2 linked regions of the Homo sapiens genome follow. The protein of the gene in region 1 interacts with the protein of each later gene in a pairwise test. Each region holds a gene or a part of one and is shown in the gene's direction. Other genes may lie near its edges.

What was found.
Region 2: the proteins of BCAN (region 1) and LYN interact in binary tests that used the Homo sapiens proteins (3 or more experiments, as listed by UniProt).

What each region holds. Positions count from the first base shown.
Region 1 is NC_000001.11:156,640,931-156,644,916, forward strand, and holds the start of BCAN (brevican core protein isoform 1 precursor), read left to right. Parts: upstream 1-1,186; 5' UTR 1,187-1,345; intron 1,346-1,452; exon of another isoform or gene 1,453-3,986. UniProt on the Homo sapiens protein: May play a role in the terminally differentiating and the adult nervous system during postnatal development. Could stabilize interactions between hyaluronan (HA) and brain proteoglycans.
Region 2 is NC_000008.11:55,949,047-55,953,069, forward strand, and holds part of LYN (tyrosine-protein kinase Lyn), read left to right. Parts: intron 1-1,412; coding exon 1,413-1,511; intron 1,512-1,634; coding exon 1,635-1,738; intron 1,739-2,919; coding exon 2,920-3,069; intron 3,070-4,023. UniProt on the Homo sapiens protein: Non-receptor tyrosine-protein kinase that transmits signals from cell surface receptors and plays an important role in the regulation of innate and adaptive immune responses, hematopoiesis, responses to growth factors and cytokines, integrin signaling, but also responses to DNA damage and genotoxic agents.

The sequences.
Region 1 (3,986 bases):
GGCGTTGGCACATTCAGTGGGGAGCAGTCCAGAGTTCCCAAGAGGGACCTAGGGTGCAGTCTAGATGGAAGGCTGGGGATCTGCCTTGAGGTTGCATTTGCATTGAATGCACCTTACTTTACTTGGGGTATTTTGAAGATGCTGTGGAGATTATGAGGATCAAAGCCCTCCAAAGCTATCCTTGGTGCCAATATTGGTATCCAGGGGAGGGAATCTAGGCATCTGGCTGTCCTGCCCACTGTCCGTGCCAGGGGCTTTGCCTACAGTCCCAGGAGGGAGGAGGGAAAAGCAAAGAGAGCCTGGGAAAGGAGAGGGAAGCAGAGGCCCTGGAGCTGGGGGAAAGGAGGGTCATTGGTATTCTGGGCGCTGAGGAGTTCCTGGCTGGGCAGCACTCAAGGCCCACCCCCTGGCATCAGGCTGCACATTCAGCATCGACAGCCCTGGCCAGTAGGCCTTCTGGGCTCCCAGCAACGCCTGCATTTTGCACATTGGTTTGCATGACTGGTAATGTCCCTTCACAGGGCCACCCTCACCCCACCCCCACCCCAGGTCTAGAGATTTCCTGAATTGCTTTGCTTAACCCATGATTCTGCTGTCTAACCTCCATCCTTCCAGCTGCAAAGTCAGCTCCTCCTCTGTGCAGGGAGTGGGAGCACCACAGGAGCCAATGCCCAATCATAGCTGCCTCCAGGGAGGTAGCTACGGTCCTTTGCACCCCATTCTGCCTCCAGAAAAGAGTTTTCCATTTTTTTTATTAGAAAGGGTGTCTCTTTTCAGGAGCAAAGCCCCCATTCTCCCTTCATCCACTTCTTACAGTCTAATTGACTCCCTCCTCCTTCTTCTTTGAACAACGAGAAGACTCTCCAGTTGTCCAACTTCCACCCCTCCAGCTGCAACATCGTCATCCTTTAGCTCAGCGAACGCTGGGCGAACGCTCCCTCCCCGCCCCTCCTGCCCCTCCTCCCTACTCCAAGCCCTCGGCTTCTCATCCGCTGAACGATGTCCTACTTCGCTCGTCCTTGCTCTCGCCGCTGCTGCCGGAGCCGAAGCAGAGAAGGCAGCGGGTCCCGTGACCGTCCCGAGAGCCCCGCGCTCCCGACCAGGGGGCGGGGGCGGCCCCGGGGAGGGCGGGGCAGGGGCGGGGGGAAGAAAGGGGGTTTTGTGCTGCGCCGGGAGGGCCGGCGCCCTCTTCCGAATGTCCTGCGGCCCCAGCCTCTCCTCACGCTCGCGCAGTCTCCGCCGCAGTCTCAGCTGCAGCTGCAGGACTGAGCCGTGCACCCGGAGGAGACCCCCGGAGGAGGCGACAAACTTCGCAGTGCCGCGACCCAACCCCAGCCCTGGGTAGGTGAGTGCCTCCGCAGCCCCGCCGCCCGCCGTGGGGTCGGGGACAGGGAGAAGGGAGTGCCTGCCTGGTCTGCGCCCCCCGCCTGTCAGCCCTTGCCTCGAGGCTCTGGGGCACCCAACTCGTCGACTCCTGACACCGCAGCGGGGTAGGCTGCTGGACAGCCCCGAGCGCCTGCAGCTGCTGCTGCCATCTCTGATCTACATGCTTCCAGCTCTGCCAGTGGCAGCCCCCCTGCTGCTCGCAGTCTGATCAGCAACCCCTCGGGTCCTCGCATCTTCCCTGCTGCGCGCTCCTGTCCCAGCGCGGCCGCCGAGATTTCCGACCTTGTCCCAGGCAGGGCGGTAGCGTTCCGGATCAGTCCTTGCCTCCGTGCCCCCACGCACAGGCAGCTCCAGGAGCAGCGGCCAGCAACCCTTCTGGGGACACCTTACTGTAGTCCGGCAGGACAGCCGATCAGAGCCGCTCTAGGGGGTGGTCGGAGTGCCCATTTCGGCTGGAATCCCAACTCGGCTCCTTGCTCTGTGACCTTGGGGTAGTTAGTTGACTTCTCTGAACCTCGGGTTCCTCATCGGTGTAATGAGCAAAACATAAACAATCTTTTTCTCACAGTTGAGGTTATCCACAGGAAGCATTTAGGAGAACTGGCTCAGGTAGACATCAGTAACTATTAGCTGGAATTCGGTTACCACTATTGCATTCCTTCCTAGCACTGCCAGGGGCCTGGGAATTCCCTCTCCCAGGTATTTCCATATCCTGTCAGGTATTCCCCCACCTATTGGAATAGCTCTGCCTACATGGTTCTAATAGGACCAAGAGATTGGCGTCAAGTCCAAGGGGCACCATTATTATCTGCATTACTTAGATTGCAGATGATGACAGTAAGATCAGGGAACAGTGTTACCCTTAGACCCACCCACAGTATTACCAGTGCCTATGTTGCTATGGCTAACTTTGCTATTTATAACAGCATCATCCACATTTCAGATTCTATACGAGAGGGATCTGCAACTGCTCGGCTGGTGTCATTGCTAATAGTATTATTAGTTTTGCTTCCAATAAAAAGGACTATTTATATGATGATTGCAATTACTTCTACAGGCCCTAAGGCCCTGCTTATATTGTGTAGGCTCATGTTGCTCCTCATGAAGCCGTTAAGGGGGTAGCAGAGAGCTTCCCTCCTGCTATAGCCAAAGCTCTGGCTTCTTGTGCCTCCCTGCTGACCCTGCTGAGTGCTGGAGCTCAGTTCCTATGGGACAGACCTTGGCTGCCGGCTGATGGGCATTCAGCATGGAGGTGGTGGGTGTTGTTAGATGTGTGTACACACGTGCATGCCTACACACACACACACACACACACACACAGAGAGAGAGAGAGAGAGAGAGAGAGAGAGAGACCTGGTCTTAACTCTCTGGGTTGGGTCTATGAAGACTGTGAGGGAGATGGACATCCCGGGTCAGACAGAAATGATGTGACAAGAGGAAAGTTTCCTGAACAGCTCAAGAAATTCAAAACAAGGGCAGAGATACAGACGCTGGAGCTGAAACAGAGAGGGGGATGTTGTGGCGTCAAGGGAACGGACCGCATGACTGCTGAGCTCTCAGGGTTAGAGTTGGAGAGGTGTGGCCTGCTCTGGAGGAAGAGAAGAGGAAGTGGAGATGAGTGGTGTGTGGGATAGAGAAGGCCACAGAACCCTGGACCCCTGGGTTCTGAGGCTGGTACCGGATGTGGGGAAGTCTGAGTTTCCTCAGGGCTCCTAGCTGCAATTGGGAGGCTGAGGCCCGAGACTGGAGAGACAGAGCTCTCTCAGAACTGCACGGGGCTACCCTCTTGGCCTCACTGGTCAGTGACTCCCATTTTTGGGGTCAAGGGTAGGTTGCCCTCCATGTTCCAGAGCAGTTAGGTCCTCATTGGCCTTAGGCCCTCTTCCCTCACTCTCCCACTGTCAGACAGAGGTGAAAGGGTGGTCCAGGGTGTTGGCCCCAAAATGACTCCAACTATATGGGTCTCTGGGCTGCCCGTCAGAGAGATGGGAGCCAGGTCTGTGAGCAGCTCCAGCTCCAGCCCAGAGAGAAGGGAGGGAGGGCACCAGAAGGGGGCCAGGCCCAGGCCCTGGCACAGCTCAGATGCATGGCAAACAGTCTTCCCAGCACCCGGTGGGCACTGGCTGCTCCTGCCCAATGGTCCCCACTCCAGCCCCAGAACAGTCCTCCCAAGCACCCCAATGCCTGGAGCTGGTCTCCGCACCTCTAATCTGGCCCCATCAAGAACCTCCTCCCTCTGAAAGGTCAGAGAGAGGCCCTAAGCATCTGGTTGTGCCACTCCTCTCCCAACTCTGACCCTAGGGAATGATATCCAGACACAGTGGGGGAGATGGGGGTTATGATGGCAGGGAGGTGGGAGGATCTGGGAAAAGTAGGAAATTTCCCATCATCTCAGGCTTAGGAAAGTGCAGGGACAGGTATGAAGGCAGATGCTGAGAGGGCAGGGAAGATGGGGGATAAACAGTGGGCCTGGAATGGGAGTGCACAGCCAGTGGAATAAACCTGATCTCTAGGAAGTCCTGCCTGTAGTCTAACCTTCAATTCTCTTGCTGCATCATTGGCCTATTCCATGGCATACCTGGATCTCCATGCTCTTCTAA
Region 2 (4,023 bases), on another chromosome or scaffold:
TGCTCATCCCTGCCTCCTCCCTGGCTCCATGCCTGCCTTTCTGCTGAGGACTCGAGCATGGTGCTGAAGCTCACTTGCTTGGAATTGTCTTATGGTTTTCTTCTTTTCATAGTGTCCATCTCTATGATAACTAGATGTTTGAACAAAGGAGTTTATAATGCATGAACTGTGGACCAGTATTCCCTTGACTCTCATTTCTATAAGGATTTGAAAGCATTTCTTAGCTATCCTGGGGCAAGTTACAAACCTTTTGTTTCTGTGAGATGGGAGCCATTTGTACCAACTCTTCTTTGTGCACCCCTGATCGCAGTGATGCGTGCTTTAGTTGTAAGGCTGTTTTCCTTTGCTTCTGTCTCTAAACATATTTTAATTCCATCACGGAGAGTGAATTTTCCCACTGGATTCTGGGGTTCCAGAGATGTTCTCCACCCGCCTTCACCATCCTAAACAAACATCTTGAGACAATTGCTATTGTAGCTGTTGAGTCTTGGATATAAACACTTTTTTCCTTTTATTTTTAGTTGACATGGAATAATTATATGCAGTCATGGGATACAGAGCGATATTTTGATACATGTATGCAGTGTGTACGGATCAAGTCAGCGTAATTAGCATATCCATCATCTGGAACATTTATTCTTTCTTTGTGTTGTGAACATTCAAAACCCTCACTCCTGGCTTCTTTTCTTTGTCTCTCTCTCTCTCTTTTTAATAGCTTTATTGAGAATTCACAATACCATACAATCCATCTACTTAAAGTGTACAATTCAGTGATTTTTTTAGTATAGTCACAGAATTGTGCAATCATCACCACAATCCATTTTAGAACATTTTAAATACCCCAAAAGGAAACCCTGCACCCCTTAGCTGTCACCTCAACTCTCCCATTCTCTGCAGCCCTAGGAAACCACGAATCTACTTTTTATCTCTGAAGACTGACCTATTCTGGATATTTCACATAAATGGAATCATACAATATGTGGTCCTTTTTGACTGCCTTCTTTTATTTAGCATAATGTTTTCAAAGTTCATCCCTGTTGTAGCATCTCTCAGCACTCCATTCCTTTCACTGCTGAGTAATACTCCACTGGATGGATATTCCAGATTTTGTCCATTCATCAGTTGATAGGCATTTTGGTTGTTTCTACTTTTTGCTTTTACAAATAAGGATGCTTTGAACATTCATGTACAAGTTTTTGTGTGGACATTATGGTTTCATCTTTCTTGGGTATATGTCAAGGAGTATAGTTGCTGGGTCCTGTGGTAAGTCTATGTTTTCTTTATTTTTAATTTTTTAATTGATATGTAATATCTGTACATAAATACATATTTATGGGATATCTGTGATATTTTGATACATGCATGGAGTATGTAATCTTTTAGCTTCTTTTTGATGTGTATTTCTATTCTAGGCATGGAGAATGGTGGAAAGCAAAGTCCCTTTTAACAAAAAAAGAAGGCTTCATCCCCAGCAACTATGTGGCCAAACTCAACACCTTAGAAACAGAAGAGTGAGTCCTCATGTGTTGTCATCTTGGTGGCTTTATTTGCCACATTGGATTTCTTGTTAATATTCTTCACCTTTTTCTTGCCGTGGAACATAATATGCAGGAAATGTTGAAATGTCTTCACAGGTGGTTTTTCAAGGATATAACCAGGAAGGACGCAGAAAGGCAGCTTTTGGCACCAGGAAATAGCGCTGGAGCTTTCCTTATTAGAGAAAGTGAAACATTAAAAGGTAGGAAATTGTTCAAAGCCTCTTTTAAAACACTATTTAGGAAATTATTTTTAGAAACTATTCTAGAGCTACTCAAGGGGAAAAAAGGGCATATAGTATGCTCTGGTAGTAAAAGTTTTATGGTTTGATAACAAATAACAAACCTCAGTGATTAGTTGTGCTACTAAAAGTAATATAGTTGAGTGTGGTGGCTCACACCTGTAATCCTAACACTTTGGGAGGCTGAGGCGAGAGGATCACTTGAGTCCAGCAGTTAGAGACCAGCCTGGGCAACACAGCAAGACCCCATCTCTACAAGAAATACAAAACTTAGCCAGGCCTGGCAGCACATGCCTATAGTCCCAGCTACTCTGGAGGCTGAGGTAGGAAGATCACCTGAACCCAGGGAAGGGAGGCTGCAGTGAGCCGTGATCACGCCACTGCACTCTAACTAGCCTGAGTGACAGAGTGAGGCACTGTCTCAAAAAAAAAAGAGAAAAGAAAAGAAAAGTACTGTAGAAAGCACACATGATTGTGGCCAGTTCTTACCAGGCTTTGTTTGCTGAGCCTTTTGCATTATTATTTGAATAAATCCTGAAGTTTTAAGACAAAGAAAATTAGGCTGGGCGTGGTGGCTCAGGCCTGTAATCCCAATGCTTTGGGAGGCCGAGACTGAGAATCACTTGAACCCAGCAGTTTGATACCAGCCTGGGCAACATAGCAAGAGCCTGTTTCTATAAGAAATTAAAAAATTAGCCAGCTGTGGTGGTGCATGATCGTAGTCTCAGCTACTTGAGAGGTTGGGGTAGAAAGATCGTTTGAGCCCAAGAGGTGGAGGCTGCAGTTAGCTATGATTGTGCCACTCTACTCTAGCCTGGGTGACAGAGCAACAACCTATTTCAAAAAAAAAAAAAAGAAAATCAAAGTAACTTAAAAAAATTTAAATGTAGCTAAATAATAATTTTAAAAAAATTATCATGAAGAAAGAAAATGGTATGTTGGCAAGCTACACAGCAAACAAAATGCCAGCTTCATTTGTCAAGTAGAATTTTTATAGGACTTTTAAAATTATGCATTTTATACAAATTTCATAAATATATGTATTTTGCATATTTGTATCACAAAATGTGTACTGCAGTTGTTGTATAATGCAGATCTTATTTGTGAGATATAAACATTTACTTACACTTTTCCCCCCATAGGAAGCTTCTCTCTGTCTGTCAGAGACTTTGACCCTGTGCATGGTGATGTTATTAAGCACTACAAAATTAGAAGTCTGGATAATGGGGGCTATTACATCTCTCCACGAATCACTTTTCCCTGTATCAGCGACATGATTAAACATTACCAAAGTAAGTAAAAACTGAAGGTTCAACAAGACAAGATATATTTGTTATGATATGTATAAGACGTCAAACGCTATTTTTATATTAAAACTTTTTATGCATCGTATTTCTCTTAGATACAGTTGCAGGTCATATTCTATAAGTGGTTCTAAATTAATCTATAGTTAGGCCAGGCACAGTGGCTCACGCCTGTAATCCCAGCACTTTGGGAGGCCAAGGCAGGTGGATCACTTGAGGTCAGGAGTTCGAGACCAGCCTGGCCAACCTGGTGATACCCCATCTCTACTAGAAAAAAAAAAAATTAGCCAGGCATAGTGGTGCGTGCCTGTAGTCCCAGCTACTCGGGAGGCTGAGGCAGGAGAATCACTTGAACACAGGAGGCGGAGATTGCAGTGAGCTGAGATCGCGCCACTGCACTCCAGCCTGGGTGACAGAGCAAGACTCTGTCTCAAAAAACAAATACTAAAATAAAAGCAATTAATTAATCTACAGTTAAATACACAAAGTAAGATTTGATCCTTGTGAATAATTCTCCCAGTCCTTCCCACCTAGTACATGCTGTTTGACATTCAGTGTTCCACAATTACCAAGAGAAAAATATATATTGTCTTTGCATATATTTTTACAATGCATCTGAATATCTGGAATAGGAATGCAGATTTGCAGATCTGTGTTTGTGTGTGTGTGTGTAAAAGTAATGTATATTCTTGGTAAAGTCAAACGGATATAACACTACCACTGAAATATTTAGAAGTGGCAGGTCAATGTCCCTGTCTCCAGTGCCACTTTGCAGTCCTGAGAAGCCTGGGCCTGAGACTCTGGGTCCCTTTCCTGTGTAATTGGAGTCAGTTGAGTGGTTGTTGCCCCGGCTCCTTTCTATGACCTGCTCGAAGGGGATGCACATTATAGGTTTGCTTGAGTCCCAAAACACGGAGAGAGCAACGTGCTTCCGATTTTGTA